2 separate regions of the Homo sapiens genome follow, and region 2 is linked to region 1. The links come from fine-mapping of genetic effects on gene expression. A gene starts in region 1. The other region holds a variant in brackets. All regions are shown on one strand. Distances are between the middles of the regions. Region 1 holds the start of CACNG6 (calcium voltage-gated channel auxiliary subunit gamma 6). Region 2 has its middle 31 kb from the start of CACNG6.

What was found.
Region 2: its variant is fine-mapped to the expression of CACNG6 in whole blood (TOPMed, PIP 0.96).

What each region holds. Positions count from the first base shown.
Region 1 is chr19:53,990,172-53,993,070 of GRCh38, reverse strand. CACNG6 (calcium voltage-gated channel auxiliary subunit gamma 6) reads right to left here and starts at 1,434. Exons shown (of 4, transcript NM_145814.2): 1 at 1-1,434. The coding sequence starts at 193. CACNG8 (calcium voltage-gated channel auxiliary subunit gamma 8) reads right to left here. Exons shown (of 4, transcript NM_031895.6): 4 at 2,856-2,899.
Region 2 is chr19:54,021,475-54,024,373 of GRCh38, reverse strand. No RefSeq gene overlaps it. Among named protein-coding and RNA genes, the nearest start is that of CACNG6, 31 kb to the right of the region's middle. RefSeq lists a silencer at 1,382-1,585. The variant A/G (reference allele first, on the strand shown) is at 1,422.

The sequences.
Region 1 (2,899 bases):
GCTCCACCCAGAACTCGGTGCCCACGGACAGCACCGCCAGCGTGGCGCCCACGGCGGCCAGCAGCAGCGCCAGCTTCACCTTCCCCTCGCGCTCGGGCGTCAGCCCCGACCTGCCCTGCCCGTGCGCCCGCCGCCGGCCCGCGGCCCCCCGCCGCCGGTTCTCCTCTTGCAGGAAGAAGTTGGACCACATCATCTTATGGCCGGTGGGGTCGGGAAGGGGGAGGAGGCAGAGCCGGCGAAGGGCCTCGAGGGGCGGGAGCGAGGAGCGGCCTGGGGTCTTGAAGGGGGTGAGGGACTCAGTTTCCCCTGGGTATGAAAGAGGGAGAGCCGAGTCCTGTCTGGAATCTCAAATGCGAAAGTCGAGATTGCTTCTGGGGTTCAGAAGAGAAAAATGATCCCCAGGGCTGGGGAAGCCTCTGGGGTTCAGAGGAGGGTCTAGGTTGCCCTCAAGAACTTGGCAAAGAAGACGGGGCCCAGAGGAAAAACAAGGCCCCCACCCTGAGGTTTAGAGATAGAATTCGGCTTCCCAGGAGGGAGTCCCCCCAAGAGCTCCAGAGGAATGAGAACTGGTGCCCGCTGAAGCTCCCTGCAGCTCCAAGGGGCTGCTTTGGGGTCCCCGCTGGGGGGTTAACAAAAGGGAAACTGGTTTTCCTGAGAGATCTGAGCACCCCACTAGGGCTAAGAGTTTGGGGTACCCAGGAAGGGACCTGAGGTCCTGTGTGTGTTTGGAGGAGATGTGGCCGGGGTTCCCTTGGGCTCAGAGTTTGAGAACAGAGGACTTGGGGACCCTCTGGGATTCGGAAAAGGAAGACCTGGGGTCCCGGGAAGCTCCCAAGGGGAGGTCGGAATTCAATCCGGGTCTCAAGAGAGGCAGTAGGACCCCGGCATCCACAGAAGGAGAAGAACAGAGCCCTGGCTGGGGCTCAGAAGAGGACTGGGCCTCGCTGGAATTCAGGAAAAGGGGATAGGGGTCTCCCCTGCCATTCAGAAAAGATCCGAGGTCTCTACTGAGCCTGGAAAAGGGGCCGGTGGCCGGAAGACAGAGTGGAGTCCAGAGGCGGGAGGCTACGGGGCCTCCCCGAGGGCTGGGGCAGATGGGACCGGGGGCCCTCCTGGGGCTCACACTATGGGGCTGTGGTCCGCACTGCGGCTCGGAAAACCAGGACTGAGTCCCCCCAGGGTTCAAAGGCCAACCGCGACCCGCAAGAGACGCTGCGCCCCTTCGGGATCAGTCCGTCTCCCTCCCCCGGGCTCCCAGGGCCTTCCCGGTCGGGTTCGCGCCAGGCTCAGCCCCAGGCCAGGGCCCCCCCTCGGGGCTCCCACCCCCGACTCCCGAGCAGGGGCCCCTCTCGCTCTCCTGCCTCGGCCCCGCGCCGACCCCAGCTCCGCGCTGCCTCCGAAGCGTCCGGCTGTGCCCGCCACCGCCACCGGCCTGGCCTCCGCCCGCGCCCGGCCTCGTCCCCACCCGCCCACCCCCCACCCTCCACCCTCCACCCTCGGGGCTATTTCGGGCTTGACCCGTAAATAACACCCGCACCTGTCGCCCGGCGCCTGTTGCCATAGGGATCCCGGGTGTTTTAAGGGGACGAGGAAGGGGGGAGGGAGGCCGCCCGGGGAGGAAGGGGCCGAGCCTGATGGGACTTTCATTTCACTAAGGGGCAAGAGCGGCGCCGAGAGTCCCAGCTCCGCAGTCTCCCGGGCAGCAGGAGACGGGCGGGGCAGCAAGTCTGACTGGGGTTACCAGGGAGGAGGGGCGGGAGGCAGGGCCCCGGGTCTCAGGGAGGAGGGCCTGAGGCCAGGAGTCTTGGGTCCCTAAGGGAGAAGAAGCCTCGGTACCCCACTTCTGAGTGGTAGAGGAAGAAGGCCTGGGTACCCAGAATCTTGGATCTGAGAGGAGAGGAACCTGGTCTCCTAGGTCCTGGGCTCCTGAGTCTGAGGGAGGAGGGGCTGGGGGCCTGAACTCCTGGGTCTGAGGGAGGAGGGGCTGGGGTCTGGACTCCTGGGTCTGAGGGAGGAGGGGCTGGGCCTGGGCTCCTGAGTCTGAGGGAGGAGGGACTGGGGCCTGGACTTCTGGGTCTGAGGGAGGAGGGACTGGGGCCTGAACTCCTGGGTCTGAAGGAGGAGGGGCTGGGGGCCTGGACTCCTGGGTCTGAGGGAGGAGGGGCTGGGGGCCTGGACTCCTGGGTCTGAGGGAGGAGGGGTTGGGGGCCTGGGCTCCTGGGTCTGAGGGAGGAGGGGCTGGGGGTCTGGACTCCTGGGTCTGAGGGAGGAGGGGCTGGGGCCTGGACTCCTGGGTCTGAGGGAGGAGGGGCTGGGGGCCTGGGCTCCTGAGTCTGAGGGAGGAGGGGCTGGGGGCCTGGACTTCTGGGTCTGAGGGAGGAGGGACTGGGGCCTGAACTCCTGGGTCTGAAGGAGGAGGGGCTGGGGGCCTGGACTCCTGGGTCTGAGGGAGGAGGGGCTGGGGGCCTGGGCTCCTGGGTCTGAGGGAGGAGGGGCTGGGGGCCTGGGCTCCTGGGTCTGAGGGAGGAGGGGCTGGGGGCCTGGGCTCCTGGGTCTGAGGGAGGAAGGCCTGGGCCTGGACTCCTGGGTCTGAGGGAGGAGGGGGCAGGGGGCCTGGACTCCTGGATCTGAGGGAGGAGGGGCTGGGCCTGGACTCCTGGGTCTGAGGGAGGAGGAGGGCCGGGGAGCCTGGACTCCTGGTCAAGGCGTTGGCAGACCCAGAGTCCTGGGCCTCAGGGAGGAGACTGGGGCCAGAACCCTGGGTCTTGAAGGATGGAAGGCCTGATTTCCATGTTGGAGAAAGCGCAGGCCTCAGGGCAGGGCCGGCTGTCAGGGGCACAGAATGAAAGCAGCACTCCTCTTCATCGAGTTTATTAGACGGGGCACCCCTGGGGGACCT
Region 2 (2,899 bases), 31 kb before region 1:
GATCGCACCACTGCACTCCAGCCTGGACGACAGAGCGAGACTCTGCCTCATAAAAGGAAGGAAGGAAGGAAGGAAGGAAGGAAAGAAGGAAGGAAGGAAGGAAGGAAGGATGGATGGATAAATAGCAGTTGTTTTTTGCCACGAAGTTTGGGGTGACTGGGTGTAAGTCAGCAGGTAACCAGAACAGAGAAGCTGCCCTGAGAGAGGGCAATTGTCCTAATTTAAAGGGATGACGCCTTTCGTTCCGTGGCCCCAGCTCTAGGTCCAAGTTGTTGCTGTCATTTTCGCCGCTAGGTGGCGGCTCATGACTGTTTCCAGCCAACGGCGGGGCAGCAAGAGGGGATGTCAATTTCTCTCCCAGCCTCGCCAGCTGATGGGGCCTTCAGCCTGGTGCCTAGTACATCAGTTAAGCACGGTGATTATTATTTCCTTGCAGAAACCCAACCTCACCCTACCTCTCCGCACGCTCATACCCTCGTTTCCAGCCTCAAGCCTTTTGCTGGAGTCCATGAAGCCCCGCAGAGAGGCTGCAGACACGGGGGCGCCTTAGCCCAGTTCCAGAGACCCTAGTTCAGCCTGCAGCTTGAGAAGGAAGTGGGGAGCTGGGGAGGCCACGCTCCCTCCGCTCCGGTCTTCTACCCCAGGGCTGGTCTTTCGCTGACGCTTCAGGAAATGAAACGCAGTACATTGCAACATCATGCACTGTTTCCCCCCCTACAATATGAAATTTAATTTTTTTAAGCATTACTGATTTATTTTTTAGGGCAAATAAAAATTGTATGTACTTATGGTGTACAACATGATGTGCTGAAATAGTATACGTTGTGAAAAGGCTAAATTGAGCTAATTTACATGTGCATTGCCTCACATTTATCATTTTTGTGTGTGTGGTAAGAACACTTACAATCTACTCTCTTAGGAAGGCTCAAGAACACAGCACATCCGTGTTAACTAAAGCCCCTCTGTTGCAGCATCATCCTCTTAAAGCCCATCCCCTCCTGGGCTTCCCTCACTGTGAGTCTGCAGCTGACACCACAAAAATTCAGGCCATCAAGTTCTAACTCATAAAATAGAATTACCATGGGATCCAGCAATTCCATTTCTGGGGAGATACCCAAAAGAATTCCAAGCAGGATCTTGAAGAGATATGTATGTATGTATGTATGTATTTTTTGAGACGGAGTCTCACTCTGTCAGCCAGGCTGGAATGCAGTGGTGCGATCTCAGCTCACTGCAACCTCTGCCTCCTGGGTTTAAGTGATTCTGCTGCCTCAGTCTCCCGAGTAGCTGGGACTACAGGCACCTAACACCATGCCCAGCTAATTTTTGTATTTTTAGTAGAGATGGGGTTTTGCCATGTTGACCCGGGTGGTCTTGAACTCCTGACCTCAGGTGATCCACCCTCCTCGGCTTCCCAAGCC[A/G]AGGATTACAGGCATGAGTCACTGCCCCCAGCCTATCTGTGTATTTATTTTTGAGACAGGGTCTCTCTCTCTGTTGCCTGGTGAGTAATACAGTAGTGTGATCTTGGCTTACTTATTGCAGCCTCGACCTCCTGGGCTCGAGCGACCTTCTCACTTCAGCCTCCTGAATAGTTGGGACTACAGGCATGCACCACCAAGCCCAGCTACTTTTAATTTTAATTTTATTTTATTTTACTTTTGTAGAGACAGGGTTTCACCATGTTGCCTAGGCTAGTCTTGAACTCCTGGGCCCAAGTGATCCACCCTCCTTGGCCTCCCGAAGTACTGGGATTACAGGCGTGAGCCACCACGCTCGGCCGGAAGAGATAATTTATACGTTGATGTTCTTAACAGCATTATTCACAAAAACCAAGAAATGGAAGCAATGTAAGTGCCATCAATGAATGAATGTGTAAAGAAAGTGTGGGATCTACATAAATGGACAAGCATTCAGCCTCTGAAAGGAAGGAGATGCTGACATGTACCTGTGGGAGGCCAACACTTGTTACCAAGAGACCTGATCAGTGAAGAACCTTGAACAGCCACCCCGGAATGACTTCTGGTTTGGGGCTTTCAAAGAGTGGGTGACAGTGTGGCCCTTGCCTTCATCAGCCTTGAATCCGCGAGGAGCTGAGCACGGGATCGTGGTCTGAGAATCAGGGGAAAGACTCCTGGGCAGCTTCCCTGTTCTGAGCAAGCTACTCCCCTTCCCTGGAACTGTCTTATGTATCCAGTGATTTCACAAATATTTGTCGAGCACGTACTATGGACCAGGCATTTTGAAAAGACTGTTACTGTTGGCTGGGTGCGGCGGCTCATGCCTGCAATCCCAGCACTTTGGGAGACCGAGGCTGGCGGATCATGAGGTCAGGACTTCCAGACCAGCCTGACCAACATGGTGAAACCCCATCTCCACTAAAAATACAAAAATTAGCTGGGCGTGGTGGTGGACGCGTGTAGTCCCAGCTACTTGGGAGGCTGAGGCACGAGAATCACTTGAACCCGGGAGGCAGAGGTTGCAGTGAGTTGAGGTCACACCACTGCACTCCAGCCTGGGCGACAGAGCAAGACTCCATCTGAAAGAAAAAAACAACAAACTGTAGATTGTAACAAGAGACATGCTAGAAATCAAGAGGGATGCACTATAACACAATGAGTGTATGGGAGGTGGGTCTTTCCTTTGCAAAGTGGGTAAGGGAAGACTTGGATGAAAATATGTTGAAGCTGAGAATTAAAAACAGTGTAAGTATCCAGCCATGAGAAATGCAAAGAGAATGACACTTCAGGCAGAAGGCACAGCGCAGGCAAAGGCCCTGGGGCAGGAGCAAGCCTGGCCAGTACTAGTTCCAAGAATGGACACAGGCCAGCGTGGCTGAGGCAAAGTGAGCCGGCTAGAGCACAGCAGGAGAAGGGAGGTGCTAAGCCCGGATCATGCAGAA